4 linked regions of the Homo sapiens genome follow. The protein of the gene in region 1 purifies or fractionates together with the protein of each later gene. This does not show direct contact. Each region holds a gene or a part of one and is shown in the gene's direction. Other genes may lie near its edges. The genes, in order: BMAL2, FREM2, MSRA and DHTKD1.

The links.
Region 2: the proteins of BMAL2 (region 1) and FREM2 purify together in Homo sapiens (affinity purification with mass spectrometry; one large-scale study listed by BioGRID and IntAct). This does not show direct contact.
Region 3: the proteins of BMAL2 (region 1) and MSRA purify together in Homo sapiens (affinity purification with mass spectrometry; 2 studies listed by BioGRID and IntAct, with this or other methods). This does not show direct contact.
Region 4: the proteins of BMAL2 (region 1) and DHTKD1 purify together in Homo sapiens (affinity purification with mass spectrometry; 2 studies listed by BioGRID and IntAct, with this or other methods). This does not show direct contact.

What each region holds. Positions count from the first base shown.
Region 1 is NC_000012.12:27,383,797-27,389,910, forward strand, and holds part of BMAL2 (basic helix-loop-helix ARNT-like protein 2), read left to right. Parts: intron 1-1,684; coding exon 1,685-1,764; intron 1,765-3,431; coding exon 3,432-3,524; intron 3,525-5,382; coding exon 5,383-5,500; intron 5,501-5,992; exon of another isoform or gene 5,993-6,114. UniProt on the Homo sapiens protein: Transcriptional activator which forms a core component of the circadian clock.
Region 2 is NC_000013.11:38,870,647-38,876,760, forward strand, and holds part of FREM2 (FRAS1-related extracellular matrix protein 2 precursor), read left to right. Parts: intron 1-2,095; coding exon 2,096-2,288; intron 2,289-3,835; coding exon 3,836-3,940; intron 3,941-5,375; coding exon 5,376-5,503; intron 5,504-5,601; coding exon 5,602-5,736; intron 5,737-6,114. UniProt on the Homo sapiens protein: Extracellular matrix protein required for maintenance of the integrity of the skin epithelium and for maintenance of renal epithelia. Required for epidermal adhesion. Involved in the development of eyelids and the anterior segment of the eyeballs.
Region 3 is NC_000008.11:10,319,792-10,323,291, forward strand, and holds part of MSRA (mitochondrial peptide methionine sulfoxide reductase isoform a precursor), read left to right. Parts: intron 1-91; coding exon 92-198; intron 199-3,500. UniProt on the Homo sapiens protein: Has an important function as a repair enzyme for proteins that have been inactivated by oxidation. Catalyzes the reversible oxidation-reduction of methionine sulfoxide in proteins to methionine.
Region 4 is NC_000010.11:12,085,954-12,089,453, forward strand, and holds part of DHTKD1 (2-oxoadipate dehydrogenase complex component E1), read left to right. Parts: intron 1-1,581; coding exon 1,582-1,776; intron 1,777-3,032; coding exon 3,033-3,302; intron 3,303-3,500. UniProt on the Homo sapiens protein: 2-oxoadipate dehydrogenase (E1a) component of the 2-oxoadipate dehydrogenase complex (OADHC). Participates in the first step, rate limiting for the overall conversion of 2-oxoadipate (alpha-ketoadipate) to glutaryl-CoA and CO(2) catalyzed by the whole OADHC.

The sequences.
Region 1 (6,114 bases):
CTAGGATGAAGATAGATTCCAACAGAAGAGATTTTCTTTTCCCTATGCCAGGCTCTTAAGAGTGCTACGAGTCTGAGAAAACTGTACTGAATCATAGCATGAGGCATTTTGTCTTTCTGCCCTGCCCACTTACTTTGCCACCACCACCACCACTTAGTTCATTGGTGAGTTTGGGCCACAGATCCGTCCGAGGGCCAATGTGTGGTTAAAATGTCTAAGGATGTTACCCCACCTTTCCCCTGCAAAAGCAACTTCTCTTACAGTACCCAGGAAGAAGGGATAGGAGTCAAGAAGGTTGGGGAATATAAGGAAGGGAAAATTGACTTACTTCTGAATCATCCTTGCCCTGGGGATGGCTTGCTTGGCTTTGTCGTCTGTGTCATACGCCCCCTTGTGGCCATGAAGGGCTTTGCGAATCTGGGTTGGTGGATTCCCTTACTCCTCCCAGGTCAAACATTTCCCTTGGTTTTGGCCTGATAATTCCTCATCATTTTGCAAGCTCTTCAGCTGCTTTAGAGACTTTCATTTTAATATAACTCAGTGCTAAGGGCTGAAAATTAATTATTTCATTTATATTTTATACATTTTTAAAATAATCTGTGTATTATCAGAATAGAGGTCTCTATATTGCCATTAAAGGATTTTCTTACTGGAAAATCTCATGAATCCGTAACATTTGTTTAGAATTCCAGAATACCCCCATTCAAGGTAACTCATATGATAAATTTTAATTAGCTAAGACATTATCTAAATAACTGTAGTGGTCCCCCCTTATCCATAGGGGCATACATTCCAAGACCCTGGTGGATGCCTGAAACCGTGGGTAGTGCTGAACCCTAGGCATAGTACTTTTTTCCTATGCACATATACCTATGATAAAGTTTAACTTATAAATCAGGCATATTAAGAGATTAACATCAATAATAAACTAGGATAATTATAGCAATATACTGTAAAAATGTTATATGTTCTGTCTTTGGCTCTCTCAAAATATCTTATTGTATTGTGCTCACCTGTTTGCAGGCCATGGTGGACCACAGGTAACTGAAACCACAGCTAACGGGGGACTACTGCATATCAATCCTTGAATTTTATTTCATGTACATTTTATTATAATGTTTTTATATATAGCTCTTAATGTGCATATTTGAATATAAAGGAATAAGTAGTTCCAAGAATTCACAATCTAAAAGAAAGAAATTTTAATCAAGTGATAATGAAGAAAGAAAATGATTAGCTGGGCGTAGTGGCTCACTCCTGTAATCCCAGCACTTTGGGAGGCTGAGGTGAGTGGATTGCTTGAGGCCAGGAGTTCAAGACCAGCCTGGCCAACATAGTGAAAACTTGTCTCTAATAAAAATATAAAAATTAGCTGGGCGTGGTGGCATGCGCCTATAATCCCAGCTATTCAGGAGGCTGAGGCACGAGAATCACTTGAACTCAGGAGGTGGAGGTTGCAGTGAGCTGAGATTGCGCGACCGCACTCCAGCCTGGGCAACAGAGTAAGACTCTGTCTCAAAAATAAATAATTAAATTAAATGAAAATGAAAAAAAAAATGATTACAGAAAATGTCTTAGAATGTGCCAAAGAGCAAATACCAGCAGCAGCAGCATTGCTAATGTTCATTAAGCATTTTGCCCTCTCTACTATATTTCCAATAACTCTTGATGCCTTTCTTTTTAGGCTTGACAAATTCTTATGTGGGAAGTAATTATAGACCATCATTTCTTCAGGATAATGAGCTCAGACATTTAATCCTTAAGGTAACTAAAGATATATTTGTCTAAGTTGTGTATGTGCTTTCATTGCTGTTTGAATAGGAGGCAGATTTTCTTCCATTTGCTTCCTGTTCTAAACATATGGGACTCCATATTACACCGTATTTCCTTTAATATAGAAGTTTAAAATAGAGAAGTAGCCATGCATTACTAGTTTGTGTTAATGAAAGTAGAGACAGAGGATAGGCACTTTCCACACTATGGAGCAAAGCTTGTATTCAGTGCTAAGCATTTTATACTACCCATCTCTCACACATAGGATCTACTCCCCCATGATCACCACCTCCTTCAAAGCCGTCTGCCTGGCATCCTGTTCCCTCAGGATCCTGTTCTTCTCGGAGGCCAGTCACTGCTTACTTAGAGTTGTTAGTGCTTTGACATTTCCGTCCTCATCATTCCTGTGCATGGCTTTTCAGATTCACCGGTCTAGAGGGGAAACTGTGATCATGTGATTTGCTTCTCATGCCCTCGGAGGTGATAAATGTCTTGGTCATGTGCTGTGTGACTACTAGGTTTTAAGCCATAGTCAAATTAAATAGAAGGATTCTTCATACACATTTTTGTCCATTTTTCCTTTAATTAAAAAAAGCCACTCTTTTATTTGAACAGCTGAATTTAAATATAGCATTTCTGGCAGGGATAGAAAGGATATTGTGTGGATAAAAAGGATTTTTGAAGGTGGCAAAATGTACGATTTGCTTTCGAAGCTTTCTCACCAATCTGTACATGCTCGTCAGTCGTACCTTCATGGAACCCTGCTTCTGCCCTGCAGAGCATGCCCAGCAAGAGTGCCAGACTCTTCCTATGTGCCATATGTACCCGCTTCCATGCAGGCTGCTTCATGGGATTTGCTGGGTAGACCTTATGAGAGTAGCTGACACATTAGTTTAGAATGAGTGATGCCTTTTTATTATTCAAAAACTATAACAAGGTGTACAGTATAATGTCTTCATTGCTTCCCTGTCCTCATTCTGCCCTGTCCTTCTACCTCAACACATCCACAGGCAATTGTTGTTCTGCATGCAGTGTAGTAGAATTTGGTAAAGGTAATTTTATTTTATTGTTATTTTTTGAGACAAGGTCTGGCTCTGTTGCCTAGGCTGGAATGCAGTGGTGCGATCTCGGCTCACTGCACCCTCCACCTCCCGGGCTCAAGCCATCCTCCCGTCTCAGCCTCCTCAGTAGCTGGGACTAGAGGCGTGCACCACCATGCCCGGCCAATTTTTGTATTTTTTGTCAAGACAGGGTTTCGCCAGTGTTGCCCAGGCTGGTCTCAAACTCATGAGCTCAAGAGATCCACCTGCCTCGGCCTCCCAAAGTGCTGGGATATAGGCTCATTTAGTGCTGTATTTAGGCTCATATACAGCACCTGGCCTAATTTTAGTTTTTAAGAAATGTCTCAACTAAATATTCTGCAGCCAAACTTTTCATGTCCAAAACATTAATTTAGAATAGGATTTCAACTTGACACTCTTTATAAATCTGTTTGCATCTTAAGAACATTTCTTAAAATTAATTTTACTAGCTCCATGACTACTCTGTTAGTTTTATTGCCACAGTAATTTCCTCAGAATCTGAATGTGTGTGTGTGTGTGCGTGTGTATAAGAGACAGACAATATTTTAAAATATTCACTTTTTTTTTAAATCCTAGACTGCAGAAGGCTTCTTATTTGTGGTTGGATGTGAAAGAGGAAAAATTCTCTTCGTTTCTAAGTCAGTCTCCAAAATACTTAATTATGATCAGGTATCCAAAAATGAGGATATTTTCCATACAATGTTTAATTTTTTGAACAAACACATATTTTTAAGCTCTTTTTCTGAACACCTTCTCCCCACTGGGATATGGGATTAGATTCTGCTAAGTTAGAACTCCAAGAGAGATGGAAAGCTGTGTGGAAAGAGTAAGGATCTTTATGACTGATTGCGTTCCCTTCCTGACCTTCAGCAAGTTACTTAATTTTACTGAGCCTCAGCTTCTTCCTATGTAAAAAGTCAAAATGATTATACCTGTCTCTCAAGATGTAAAGACTAAATGAGGTGTCATATTTAAGAGTGTCTGAAAAGTGTTAGTCACCCTTCTCTGTTCCCTCCAAGAGACACTTTATGGTTAATTATTAAGTTATAATCATTGCATGACAGCCTTTGATCTAATCTCTGGCAACACTCTCTGAAATACATCTTTCATTTAACTAGTTTAGTACTTCACCTCCTTATTACTGAACACCATTTCATGGAAACTAGCTACTCAAAAATTATAGCATTGAAACTAACCCAAGTAAGTGAATAAACTAGCACTAGAAATCCGATAGACTGCAGCACTGTTTTTTAATAACTCACATTAGATTATAAGGGTGTTCAGAGATAATGAGTTAAATAACAGAAATAAGGGAATATTATGAGCCTGTGTACAGGAGGATTGAAAACCGATGAAACCTTCAGCTGGTTATAGCTGGGGGCACAAACCTCATGATTCCACGTTCTAACTGGAGATGGAAAACACACCCACACATGCACACACACATGCACGCACACACACACACACACACAGGTAACTGACAGTTTAGGGTACCACTTAAGTTTCAAGTTAGTGACATGGAATCCAGTCCTACTGGGCACTGACTTTGCATAGAAGAGGCTATTAAGAGACTTACTGGCTGCTCAGGGGCATGTAGGGATTCCCATGATTCAGGATTTAGTCCTCAGCTTTTCAGATTCAGAAACTTGGTCTGCCCTAGAGAGTTCTGGATATAGACTTATATTAACCACACAGTTTTTTTTAGAATGAAACATATAACCGCCAAACAATTCAGCCTGCTTATATCGGCTGGTCCGTTAGTCCTGTTGTCTATAGGAATGTTTGCTTGGGTAATACAGGAATTCAGAAGAGGGGTGGCCACTGTGGGTCAGGAAGGCGTCACACATGAAGTAGGATGTCTGCCAGGCTTGTCAGAAGGAAGGTGTAGAGAAGGGGAGGAAACATTTCAACCTGGGAGAAGGGAGTCCCGGAAGTCTAGGGAGTCAAAGGCAATTTGGCTGGAGTGGCCAAGGGATAGGGAAGGGGTGATGAATTCTGAGGGGTGGGACTGTATCAGCAAAGGCATAGACCTGGGGATGCTGTGCCTTTTGGGAGTGGTGGAATGGGAAGTGAGAGGTATTCTGGGTTGGATTTTACCTATCAATAGTATGGTAATTTTTTAAACTGTATGGTAAATATCTGATAAAGTCACAGATATTCTGTGATTTCTATATTATACTATGATGTAATCTCTTTTTTTTAACAAGGACAAAAAAAGTTCAAAGTAAATCACAATCATTTACAAGTAACATGTTAACAAGAGTTACAAGATTTAGCAGAATACTAGCAATTGGTGTTTGTATATGGTTTGTGTATATCCAGGGATGGTTCTATACGCATGTATTTTTTTCTGTCTACAAGTATCACCCTGCTTTGAACATTAAGTTCATGTCACACAGTGTCGTGGACATATCTTTGAGCTTGAGAAAAATCAATCAAAAATCAAAAAAGAACATTTATTGTATGCATCAAGAAATGTAGAAAAAGCATGGTACTGATTTTAAATGAATGTCTACCTTATGAATAGGCTAGTTTGACTGGACAAAGCTTATTTGACTTCTTACATCCAAAAGATGTTGCCAAAGTAAAGGAACAACTTTCTTCTTTTGATATTTCACCAAGAGAAAAGCTAATAGATGCCAAAAGTAAGTGTCCATTTCCGCATGCTTATTATTTTATGTAAATGTAATGATCACCTAAAAGTTTAGCTACACAGTGTTTTTAAAACAGCTAACTAAGCTTTTATCAAGAGAGAATTGTTTTGTAAACTTTACATCATACTTAATAAATATATATAGCTATATAGAAAATTCCTATATTCATACAGACATATACAAACACAAATTCATTGATATGAAGATGCTTTGGGGAAAATATGAGTGCTTCATATTTGCTATTTTTCATATGCAAATAAAATCTTTACAAGAAAGTATCATTTGGATAAAAAATTGCTGAAGTTCCCATTATTTAGCTATATGCTAAAAGACAATTACTCTCTTTTTTATATGGATTAGGTCTTTTCTGTATGAAAGACCTTGTATAATTGTGTTTGGGAAGTATAAGTATTTTTTTCTTCTCTGAAAATGCCTAGTACCAAATAATTATGTAAAATATAAAACAATTGATTCCTGTAATAGTTAAGGTTTTTTTCATTTTTTAATTTAATTTTTATTTCATTTCACTTAAATTAACTTTGTTCTTCCCCATTTGAGGAAAAAAGAAAGATAAATTGCAAATGTCTGTAAGTTATCAAAATGTG
Region 2 (6,114 bases), on another chromosome or scaffold:
AGTAGACAGAAAGAAGACCTAGCCATGGGTACTAAGAAAATGCAATGGAATGCTGATTCTGTGTCCAAAAATGATCAAGCTCTAGTTTACCACAACATCAAATAAAATCAAATCAGAATTAGTTGGGGAGCTGTACTCCAAGTAACTTATTCATAGGAAGTGAGTATTAGTAATTCCCTCCAAAATAGCATACTCAGTAACATTTGATGGATAGAATATAACATTGGAAAAAATTATTCTTAGCACCTATAAAGCTTAATTGGAAATCTATTCCTAAAACCTAATTATTTTTTAAAATCATGGTTTATTAAAATTGTAAGGTAAAATATTAATCTTAAGGACTAGTGGCATATGGGTTGACTTAGTCACCGTCCATTTCCCTGCACTTCAAAATCAATTGCTCAATGAGGTAATAACAGCCGCCCATAGAAACTACTGTCTCAAAGGACTTTTAATGCAAAGCACCTCTCCTGCTGGCCAGGCTAGCAGGTAAGAGGGAATGCTAACTACTATACTATACAGCTAAGAATGAAATAACTGGTTTGGTTGATGGTTCTTTTCTATATATTTTTATTAGGGATTCAGGTCATCATTTTTGTGACATGAGCAGTTTACTTTTAACTTCATAAGAATGTTCTAAATTATAGTTCTCATGATTTAAATTATTTGCTAACTCATGCCTGTGATTCTTGTTGTGAGCTGTGTGGAAGGAGAACTAGACCATAATCAGACAGCCTGACTCAAACTTCTATGGAGTGTGATCTGACCTAAGTCCTTTCCTCTTGTGTAGAAGAGGCTAGTTGTATTTGTCCTACTATTGTGCAGAGCTATTTTGAGAATGAAATATGATAGCCTTTGTTAGATGACCTTAGGACTGCCTTCATCTTTGTTTGGAATACGATGAAGTAAGACAGAATAGAAAAAAAACATGGGCCAAAAGCTGAGTTCTGATCTTGTCCGAGCCATTCAGGAGGTTTAGAGAATACTGTGGGACATTTACCTTTTTCCTTTGAGTCTTAATTTTATCTTTGTCTCTTTCTATCCGTCATCCATTGACCATCCAACTATCCATCCATACATGCAAAATAATTATGGTGGAGAGTGAAAATATTAAATAGTGTTTATTCAGAAACTAGTACAGTTTCTGAAATATGGTAAGTACTCAATATATAAATATTAGTTTATCCTCCACTATTCCCAACCCATCTGCTAAACACCAGAAGGAGGAAAGTATAAAATTCAAGGCAAGACACTTCATTTCAACTAATTATTCTTGAGATATTATAAATGTTATATGTTATTAGTAAATATATTTGCTTCCAGATCTATGTTTCATATTCCCTTAATAAAAAAGTAGCTCATAGCAGCATTTTTTATAATAGCCAAAAACTGGAAACAACCCAAATGGCCATGAAGTGATAAATAGATAAATGAAATGTAATATGTGCATACAATGGGCTGCAATTCATTAACAGGGGAATTAAGTATTGAAACGTGCTCAAACATGGATGCACCTTGAAAACATTATGCTAAATGAAAGAAATCTATCACAAAAAAACACATTTTGTATGATTCCATTTATATGAAATGTCCAGGATAGACAAATACATAAAGACCTAGTGGTTTCCAGGGACTGACGGGGAGGAGGGATTGGGGGTGACTGCTAATAAGTACAGGCTTCCTTTTGGAGGTGATGAAAATCTTCTAAAATTGATTGTGTTGGTTGCACAGCTCCTTAAATATACTAAGAACCATTGAACTGTTTACTTTAAATAGGTGAATTACATGGTATGTAAACTATCTTCATAAAACTGCTCTAAAGAGGATTTTGTAAGTATAGTATGCTCAAAATAATGCACTGTCTTAAGGATTTCTGGTACATATCCTTTGTTGCCAATGAAGGTAATTAGTAACAACTATTTAATCGATCCAAAATTAAGTGAGGGGAAAATAGTGTTATAAAATGCTGTCATTTCCTCTTCTCAATGATTACTCAAAATCTTCAGTTAAGCGAAAAGAGAAAATGGCTTGTACAAAATTAGGCCCACTTAGTTAACACTGAGTCATGTTGATTGATGTAATTTTGTTGTTTTAGGTCCTAAACCTAGTGCAGTCCTATGTGACCCTTCGAGTCCCTCTGTATGTTTCCTACGTGTTCCATTCCCCCGTGGGGGTAGGAGGCTGGCAGCATTTTGACTTGAAGTCAGAGCTTCGTCTAACTTTTGTGTACGACACCGCCATCTTGTGGAATGATGGAATTGGCAGCCCCCCAGAGGCTGAACTTCAAGGTGAGTTCAGAAGACTTGGAAAATTCTATAGTTTTGTAACCTATTTAAACTATTTAAGACGATTTTTTTTTGCCATTGCTAAAAGTAGTACTAGCAAATTTCAGTATATTTTCATTTTCTATCTATAATAAGATAATTTCACCTTTTTCATCAAAAAACTCTTTAAACCATATTAGGGCTTTAAATTTTGTGCAATATGTGATTATTAAATATGACTTTATATATTTCATGGATATTTTATCCTTGCGATCTATTTTAGGTGATTAATTATTTATGTGTTACATAACACAACATATATATTTTTCTGAATTCTAGAAAATGGATAGAGGAAGCTCCAACGAAAGCAAGAAATGACCAAGGGAAAAAGTTACACATTTTTATTTCTGAAAAAAAGAGGTGCATTTAAATTAAATACAAATTATGGCCTGAATTCTAGTCATGACTCTACAACTAACTAGCTGTGAGATCTCAAGCATATTGCTTAACCTTTCTGGGACTTAACTTTTTCTGAATGATAGACACAACTTCTAATATCTCTTTCTGATGTAAAATTCTATTACTCTGGGGTACTTTAGTTGAATGTCTGCGAACTCGGATTGTGAATGCCACTAGTTCGAGTTCGCGAGCATTTGCAAAACTTGGTTTCAATCTCCATGTTAGACTCATAGTTCAAAGTCCACAAGCATCAATCTAATCCATTAGTAGGACGAGTGCTTTTTCTTTTTCAGACATGTATTACTGTTCCGATTCCACAAACATCCATAGTGTCATGCCAGTACTGCATTTTACTAGCCAGCAGGAAAACAGAGTTAATAGTGCACCTCAAATGTAAATCTACTCTCTTAAGTGGATTAAAACCTATTTATGCTCTGTTCATTTTGTTGTTGTCTTTTTTTCTCCATGTTTCATTTTGAATAGTTTCTATTTTAGAGCTATGTGACAGGTAATATGATAACCCTGAGTTATGATTCCAAATTATTTCAAATGTTTTAAGTCCGTGTCTTGTTTTAGAAGATGTATATTTAAGTTAATCTTAATGAGGATTTTTCTGTGGTTCCCAACCTCCACATAGGATCTCTTGTTTCCATCTGATTTCTGGAGCCAAATTTTATCAAACTGCTAAATTTCTTGGGAAAGCTTCAGAGGTTTCTTTAAGTCTATAAAATTAGGAATAATTCTGGATAACTCAAACCTATTTCTATTTACATGTCCGAATCTCCATCATTTTGACAATTTTGTCATGCCTCTCAATTTACAGCTTCATTTTTATAAACTCAGATTTTAAAAAAACTTGGTCTATTGTAAGTAATCTGTGTATTTCATAGTGACTTCACTCATGTTACTTAATAATTCATTTTGGCTCCCTTTTCTGCTTAGAAAAGAAAATGAAGATACTTCTGCCTCTGTTATTCAGAATTCTTCTGATAATACCCTTTGCCCAGAATGTTTAAAGACAAGTCAAACCTGAATTAATTTTTGGAAGGAATCTGTACATAAGGGGTCTCTGGCTACATATATTTTCATTCTTGGTACTCTCCCCATTATAGGTTCTCTCTATCCAACCAGCATGCGCATCGGTGATGAGGGGCGCTTGGCCGTGCACTTCAAGACAGAGGCTCAGTTCCATGGCTTATTTGTGCTGTCACATCCCGGTAAGCCCCGTTATCTTTTAACAACCACTCCTCACACAAAAAGGAGGTAGATTTTCCATCTTCACACATTTCAGCGTGCTTCTCTGTTACCACTGAAGCCCTTAATCTCAAATGAATTGTACATGTGGGATTATCTCCATGAGAGCTTGATAATTGTTCAGCTTCACCTCATAATCCACAAAATTATCATTATGCAGACTTTCAGAGAAAATGCAAAATAATTAGAGTAAAATTAAAAGGAAACCCTATTGAGTTCATTTTAAGTAAAGTTTTCCTTAAAGAGCATAGGAATAATCATTTCTTTCTCTGCTTTGCTTCCATTGTACAAATCGAATTGCAGATGATTCATTCAGCAAGCACTTCTCTTTTCACAGCTTTTTGCTAGGTACTGTGAGAAACCCTTTTAATAGGGTCAGAGGAGGTACTTCACTTTCATATTTAAGTTTTGGACATGTTAATTATGTTTAATAAGTATTGGCTATGCAATTTTACTAACTGTGATTCGCTGTGCTTTGAATATCAACAAGGCAGCAGTCGATAAAATCCCACGTCTAACTTCATTTGTTTTTTGTTTTTTTTTAACAAGGACATTTCACTAGAAAGAGCTTATTTTTTATTTGACTCTCCATATTACCAGTTTAGTAACATGGAGAGTCAAATAAAAAATAAGCCATTTTTCTGCCAGCTTATATTAGATTGGGAAAGGGAAAATAGTTCACTCAACATCTTTATAGCTTTTCTTTTTCTGGACTTGAACTCTAACAAAAGAGAATAGGGCTGAATAATTAGGAAGAGAAAGAGGCTTCATTGTATTTTTATGGAACTGAGCTACAAGAAAGAAAGAACCCAAAAAAATCATTTTGCTTTATTGTATTTGACAGTTCTGGAAAATGAGGATTTTCTGGTCTATACAGTTTTCTTCTACATGCCTACCTTTCTAATAAACTGAATCTTTGTGTAGCCATGATTGCAGGCAATCTAACTAAAATCAGACTCCATTCATAAATTGGGTTTGCCCAGCTGTGTGGATACTAATAGACTATTTTAAGTTCAGCTCGTAACTTCAGTGCACAATAAATGCATTCACATCACCCTTTATTGTGCTGCTGTGACTCCCCAGAAAGTAGCTCTGAACAATTTGAGCATTTCTGTACAATTATCTTTTGACAAAACTATAGAGCAGAAACAGTACTGAAGTAGGAATCAGAAAGTCACATCCTAGCTGTGTGATCTTTGGAAAGTCACACAGTCACTCACAGCCCAGTTTCTTCATCTGCCAGAGGAGGATAATTATACTAACCATGACTGCTTTGCAGCCTTCTTATAAAAACAGAAGCAAATAATGTATGATCATTTATTTTGAAAACTCTAAACTGTTATGCACTCTTTTAATTGAACCACTATATCATTATTATAATTACTGGCACTTTCCTAGCATCCTTTACAAGCTCAGTGATCATGTCAGCTGATCATCCAGGCCTGACATTTTCCCTCCGCCTCATAAGGAGTGAACCAACCTATAACCAGCCAGTACAGCAGTGGAGCTTTGTCTCTGACTTTGCCGTAAGTGACTAAGACTCTTAATTAATTTTCTTCTGCTGCTGCCATCTGATTACACCTCAGATTTTTAAATGTAATATATCAATATCTTCTCCTCAAAGGTACGTGACTACTCAGGGACCTATACTGTGAAGCTGGTGCCATGCACTGCCCCATCACATCAGGAATACCGCCTGCCAGTCACCTGCAACCCCAGAGAACCTGTCACCTTTGACCTTGACATCCGATTCCAACAGGTGTGGCTTATAGAATTACTATCTTATGACTTGCAGAATCCCACTTTGTTTTTCATTTATTAGTAAAAAAAAAAAAAATCCACACGTGAATGACTTTAATTCTTGCATGCTGAAAAGAAAAGAAATCAGACAGTTAAGGAAGCTAGGGATAAAAGAATGAGGAGAGATTTGCCCTTTATCTGTTGTTAGTACAGGATGTAAAATTCAGAGTTTAAATGTATGCAATGGTTATTTTTTTCTTATCTGATCTTATCTTGTGTCCTCCTGAAGTTTGCTGTCTTGGAGATTTGAGAATTTTCCCCGCACTTCTGCATTTCTTTTCTTGTTCTTCTCTAAAGAGAATGAAATCCTGTAGCTCAAACCACCTCAAAGTACCTA
Region 3 (3,500 bases), on another chromosome or scaffold:
AAGTGTCAAAATGTCTCAGCATTGTGCCCAGTTTGAGACTGGCACTGTCGCCTAGTGACCGGGTAACCCTCCCTGTTTTCTGCTTTCCTAGGTATGCGCCAGGGGAACGACCATGGCACTCAGTACCGCTCGGCCATCTACCCGACCTCTGCCAAGCAAATGGAGGCAGCCCTGAGCTCCAAAGAGAACTACCAAAAGGTAGGGATTGCTGGGCTCCTAGCCCCTGGCTTAGGCCACCATGACTAGGGCCAGGTTCTGATTTTAGAGGGCAGTCTGCTGCTTTTCAACTGGAATTGTGTTTTATTTGCACATCTCTTAGAAATTTCTGTCAGCCTCTAGGAGTGGAGCCATTGTGTCTAATACGTGTGCTAAATGAGGTTTTAAGAGTAGGCCTGGGCCAGGGCCAGTGGCTCATGCCTGTAATCCCAGTACTTTGGGGGGCCGAAGCAGAAGGATACTTGAGGCCAGGAGTTCGAGACCAGCCTGGGCAACATGAAGAAACCCCATCTCTACAAAAAATACAAAAATAAGCCAGGCATGGTGGCCTGCACCTACAGTCCCAGCTACCTGGGAGGGTGAGGTGGGAGTATCGTTTGAACCTGGGAGGTCAAGGCTGCAGTGACCTGTGATTGCACCACTGCACTTCAGCCTGGGTGACAGAGCAAGACCCTGTCTCAATGTAAAAAAATAAAGAGTAGGCCCTTATGTGTTTGCCTTTGAATCACTCATCTAGATGAAGACACAGCCTGTTAAAATAAGTCTTTTTCCTTCTCTCTTTATTTCTGTCTCTGTCTGAAACTCTCTCTTTTTTTCTTCCCTCTGTATTAGTTTTACAGGGCTATTGTAACAAACAGTCACAGCCTGGTTAGTTTAAACAGCAGATATTTATTTTCTCACAATTCTGGAGGCTGGAAGTCCAAGATCAAGGTGTCGGCAGGGCTGGTTCCTTCTGAGTGCTGTGAGGGAAGGGAAGGATCTGTTCCAGGCCTCTCTCCTTGGCTTCTAGATGGCTGTCTTCTCCATGTTTATATTCACATCAGCCTAGTTTTATGTGCGTGTGTTTCTTTGTCCAAGCTTCTTGTTTTTAAACAGTCTCTAGTCATATTGGCTTAGTGCTAACCCTCATGACCTCGTTTAACTTAATTACCTCTGTAAAGACCCGTTCTCCAAGGAAGGTCACATTCCGAGGTTTTAGGACTCCAACATATCTTTTGGAGGGAGACACGATTCAACCCATAACACTTTCTCATAACAGTAAATTGAATTATGATAAAAGTAGTTCTCGGAAATATATACATGATATCACAAAATAATTATTTTCAGAGTTGTGTACCCTTTTTTAAAATCCTCCAATAGAGATTTAGTTGTTTTAAAAACAAGTTGACTTGCTTTAGTTTTTAGAACTTTGTGATAGTACTTGTATTTTATTTATCATTATATTTTCTGATGTGGATTTGCATTTGACAGTAGAGCTAGAAGCTACTATAAAGCTAATCTATGTTAGAATTTTGTAAAAAGTCAGGTATGCAACAGCCCCCAGGAATGAGTGCAGAGACGAGGAGGCTGTAACTAGAGTGTCCACTGGTGAGCAAGTAGAAGGACGGGTGACTCAAGGTCAGTTCGACTATGATGAGCGGAGAGGCCTGAGGGAGGCGCTGACAGAGCCCATTCCTTCCTTGGCCCCTCCCACCTCCCTCCCAGGGTGATGTCTGCTTGGCTGGTCATGGTAGGCAGCCTGTGGGATGGCCCCCAGTGCTCTCTGCCCATATGTAATTCATCTCCTTGAATATGGGCTGCATTTAGCAACTCACTTCTAATGAATGACAGCAGTGATGGGAGCACTCTGAGACTAGGTCATTAAAAGATTGTGGCTCGTATTGTGAAAACTCTCTGTTACCGCGTGAGAGATGGTAGGGGAAGCCAGTTGCCACGTCATGAAGCAGCCCTGTGCAGAGGCTTACATGACAAGGACAAAAGCCTGCCAAGAACTATGTGAGTGAGCTTCGAATCCCCTCAACCCCAGTCAAGCCTTCAGATGAGACTGCAGCCCTGCCTGACAGTTTGATTACAGCGTCATGAAGGACTTCAAGCCAGAGGCACACAGCCAAGCTGTGCCACAGAAGCTGTGAGATAATAAATGTATATACTTTGAAGCTGCTAAGTTTTAGAGTAATTTAAGTATACTTGTATTTCCATTCTAAAAACCTTTTACCTATATATTCTTTCTCTTATCCCTTTTTCGTAATGGCTTTTGTAACAGTGGTGGGCTAACCTGGGCATTTATGGTGGTGGTTACACATGCAGTCTCTAGCATGAAATTTTCTCAATTCACATGTCATCTGTGCAGTTTATTATCAAGTACCTGACACTTAGAAAGCCATATGTTCTATTTGACTCAAGCAGACCTATGAGGATGAGGGAGACCCCATTATCCCCATTTTCCAGATGCTCAAAGAGAGAGCAATGACCTTAGAATAAATGAAATTAAAGAGAAGTAAGACTGGATGCAGGGAGATGAGTTGGGCAGCTATTATAGGATTCCGGGCCAGAAGTAATGGAAGCTTTGTCTAGGATGGTGGAAGTATGGGTGGGAGGGAGGGATATTTAGGAAGTACAAAGACCAGAACTTGGAACTTCACTGGAAGTGGAGAGTCAATAAGAGGGACAGGTCCAGGTCCAGGTCATGGCTGGTGATTTTTTGTACAAGTGTACAGAGAAGCAGAGGCAGATTTGTGGGGAAGGTAAGTTAAGTTGTGAAAGTGCAGAGTCTAAGGTGCCCATGACATGGGCATCCAAGGGGCTGTTTGGAGGAGCCATGGGCTGTTTCTGCCTTGCAGGGAGGATTGTTAGGACTGCTAACTGGGCTAATGCTTGTGAAACACAGGGCCTAGCACATGGTAAATACCTCATAAACAGGAACCCTTATTATTATTGGGAGTTGTCAACTTATATTTGCTAAATGAAACCCCAGTTGCTGATAAGATTACTTGGGAAAAGTAATGAGATAAAAGCAGAAGAGGCAGGGCACAGTGACTCACGCCTCTAATCCCAGCACTTTGGGAGGCTGAAGTGGGCGGATCATGAGGTCAGGACTTCGAGACCAGCCTGACTAACATGGTGAAACTCGGTCTCTACTAAAAATACAAAAATTAGCCAGGCGTGGTTACACGCACCTGTAATCCGAGCTACTGAGGAGGCTGAGGCAGGAGAAATGCTTGAACCCAGGAAGCAAAGGTTGCACTGAGCTGAGATTGCATTACTAAACTCCAGCCTGGGCAACAGAGTGAGACTCCATCTCAAAAAAAAAAAAAAAAAAATGCAGAAGAGAGGGCTTAGTACCCGAGGAACTGATTCCTCCACTTGAGCGGTGGGAGGGGAACTGTCCAACCAGGCAGGACACTACACTGGGCACCACAGGAACCAACCCCAACCAAGAACTTAAAAAGTGGTTCAATTGTTTCATCCCACTGTATTTAATTATAAAGGCAGTATTTATAACT
Region 4 (3,500 bases), on another chromosome or scaffold:
TTATTTTTATTTTTTTGAGATGGAGTCTTGCCCTGTCGCCCAAGTAGCTGGGATTACAGGCACGTGCCACCACACCCAGCTAATTTTTGTATTTTTAGTAGAGACGGGGTTTCATCATGTTGGCCAAGATGGTCTCGATCTCCTGACTTCATGATCCACCCGCCTCGGCCTCCCAAAATGCTAGGATTACAGGCGTGAGCCACCACACCTGGCCTTTTAAACAAAATTTTTTAAAAATTTATTTAAAATTTATTTTTCTTTTGTTTTCTTTTCTTTTTTTTTTTTTTGAGATGGATTCTCCCTGTCGCCCAGGCTGGAGTGCAGTGGTATGATCTCAGCTCACTGTAACCTCTGCCTCCCAGGTTCAAGCCATTCTCCTGCCTCAGCCTCCCAAGTAGCTGGGACTACAGGTGCATGCCATGATGCCTGGCTAATTTTTTGTATTTTTAGTAGAACGGGGTTTCACTGTGTTAGTCAGGATGGTCTCGATCTCCTGACCTCGTGATTCACTCCCATCAGCCTTCCAAAGTGCTGGGATTACAGGCATGAGCCACCGCGCCCAGCCTAAAATGTGTTAGCCAGGATGGTCTCGATCTCCTGACCTCATGATCTGCCCACCTCGGCCTCCCAAAGTGCTGGGATTAAGGCATCAGCCACCGTGACTGGCCTAAAATTTCTTTTAATATGTGAGAAAAAAAAGTCTTTTGGTAACAGGACATACTGTCACCATTCAGGGCTATGTACAGTTGCAGTTCTTGAGACAGTCTTGCTCTGTCACCCAGGTTGGAGTGCAGTGGCACGATCTCGGCTCACTGCAACCTCCGCCTCCTGGACTCAAGCAATTCTCCTGCCTCAGCCTCCTGAGTAGCTGGGATTACAGGTGCACACCACCACACCCGGCTAATTTTTAGATTTTCAGTAGAGACGGGGTTTCACCATGTTGGCCAAGTCTCAAACTCCTGGCCTCAAGTGATCCACCTGCCTTGGCCTCCCGAAGTGCTGGGATTACAGACGTGAACCACCATGCCTGGCCTGGTCTTACTTCTTAAGAACTAAAGATACTTAAGTTCAGAACTTAATCTGAGATGATCAAAAGATGACATGTGGAAGACAGGCTCAGTACAAATGAATGGAACTGAACCTCTGCTGGGGCTGTGACCAGGACTCTGGAATGTCAAGATGGCAAGAAGCCCCTTCCTAATAGTTTGGGTAGTTGGATAGTTTGCAGCCTTGATTCATACCGTAGAGCCCCGTGTGAAAACTGGGGTACTGGGAAGAGGCAGCAGAAATCTAAGGCCTGGATTCCAGTCCAGAAGAACACACATTCTAAGGGGGTTTCCTTGGGGTGAGTTATTCTGCCGCTCAGGTTATTCTCCTCAGCCCCTCCTACTGTCCCGGATCCTAGGAAAACCATCCCGCTGTGTCCGTGTTATGTCTCTCTCCGGGATATGTAGTAAAGTGGCATTGCTGTGGCCACTTGGGGAGTGTGGGGCCATCTCACAACACACACAGACTTATCTGCCTTCCACTGGAGAAGCTGGCTGTCTCCTGGCAGCTCACGTCTGACATGATGTTCTGCAGGAGTTTGACCACTTTCTGGCCACCAAGTTCTCGACAGTGAAGCGATATGGAGGCGAAGGGGCTGAAAGCATGATGGGCTTTTTCCACGAGCTGCTGAAAATGTCGGCCTACAGCGGGATCACTGATGTCATTATTGGGATGCCCCATAGAGGGAGGCTGAATTTATTGACAGGCCTTCTGCAGTTCCCTCCAGAGGTAAGGTTACTCGCTGTGTTTCTCAGTAGCACTATATGATTGATTGTAACAGAATAAAACTGCTGGTTTCATTCTGGTGATAAATGATGGTGATGGTGATGGCCGGGCACTGTGGCTCACACCTGCAATCCCAGCCTGTTGGGAGGATGAGGCAGGAGGATGGCTTGAATCTAGGAGTTTGAGACCACCCTGTGGAACAAAGTGAGACTTTGTCTCTACCAAAAATAAAATAAGTTAGCCAAGCATGGTGGCACGCACCCGTGTTCCCAGCTACTCAGGAGACTGAGGCCAGAGGATCACTTGAGCCCAGGAGTTTGAGGCTGCAGTGAGCTATGATCTCACCACTGCACTCCAGGCTGGGCAACAAAGCAAGATGCTGCCTGAATATAAATAAATTTTTAAAAAGTAAAACTCATGGTGATCATTCATTTTAGGAAGTCAACTAAGGCTGGGCAAGGTGGCTCATACCTGCAATCCCAGCACTTTGGGAGGCTAAGGCAAGAGGAGTGCTTGAGCCCAGGAGTTCAAGACCATGGGTAACCTCGCAAAACTCTGTCCCTACAAAAATAAAAATTAGGTGGCATGGTCTCTACAAACATGAAAATTAGGTGGTGCACCTATGGTTCCAGCTACTTGGGAGGCTGGGATGGGAGGATCTCTTGAGTCCAGGAGATGGAGGCTGCAGTGAGCTGAGACTGTGCCACTGCCCTCCAGCCTGGAAGACAGAGCCAGATCCTGTCTTAAAAAAAAAAAAGAGGAAAGGCAACTAAGCATATGAGCAGTTGGTCCAGGAGGTAGCTTAGACAGTTTAGTTAATTGACAGAGTTGGTATTTGGATTGGTTTTCCATGTATACTTACTTATTTATTTATTGAGACCTAATCTCGCTCTGTCACCCAGGCTGGAGTGCAGTGGCGTGATCTCGGCTCACTGCAACCTCCGCCTCCCAGGTTCAAGTGATTCTTATGCCTCAGCCTCTCTACTAGCTGGGATTACAGGTACCTGCCACCACACCCAACTAATTTTTTGTATTTTTAATAGAGACGGGGTTTCACCATGTTGGCCAGGCTGGTCCCGAACTCCTGACCTCAAGTGATCTTCCCGTCTCAGCCTCCCAAAGTGCTGGAATTACAGGCATAAGCCACCACTCCTGGCTTTAAATTTTCTTTTTTGTTGTATGATTTCAACTCAGCACTTCTTCCCTAGACTCCATTGTGATGAATGCCATTTTTTTCCTTTTGAATGTATCCACAATAGCTGATGTTCCGTAAAATGCGAGGCTTAAGTGAATTTCCAGAGAATTTCTCAGCCACTGGAGACGTCCTGTCTCACCTGACCTCCTCTGTGGACCTGTACTTTGGGGCGCACCATCCCCTCCATGTGACAATGTTGCCCAATCCCTCGCACCTGGAGGCCGTCAACCCCGTGGCCGTGGGCAAAACTCGCGGCAGGCAGCAGTCTCGCCAAGACGGCGATTACTCTCCAGACAACTCAGCCCAGCCGGGGGACAGGGTCATTTGCTTACAGGTACTTGGAGCTTCTGAAATTGAGGCCAGAGGTGGGGAAAACTGGGAAGAATGTGTGGGTTGGGAGGGCTGAAAGCACATGGCAGACATTCATGATGAAACTGAGATGACCTTTTGGAAAAAGATTCTGGGATTGTTTTAAAAACTAACAGGAGATTCATGAGGTTTAGTCTTCAGGCAACTGGCTTTAGCCTGGGGC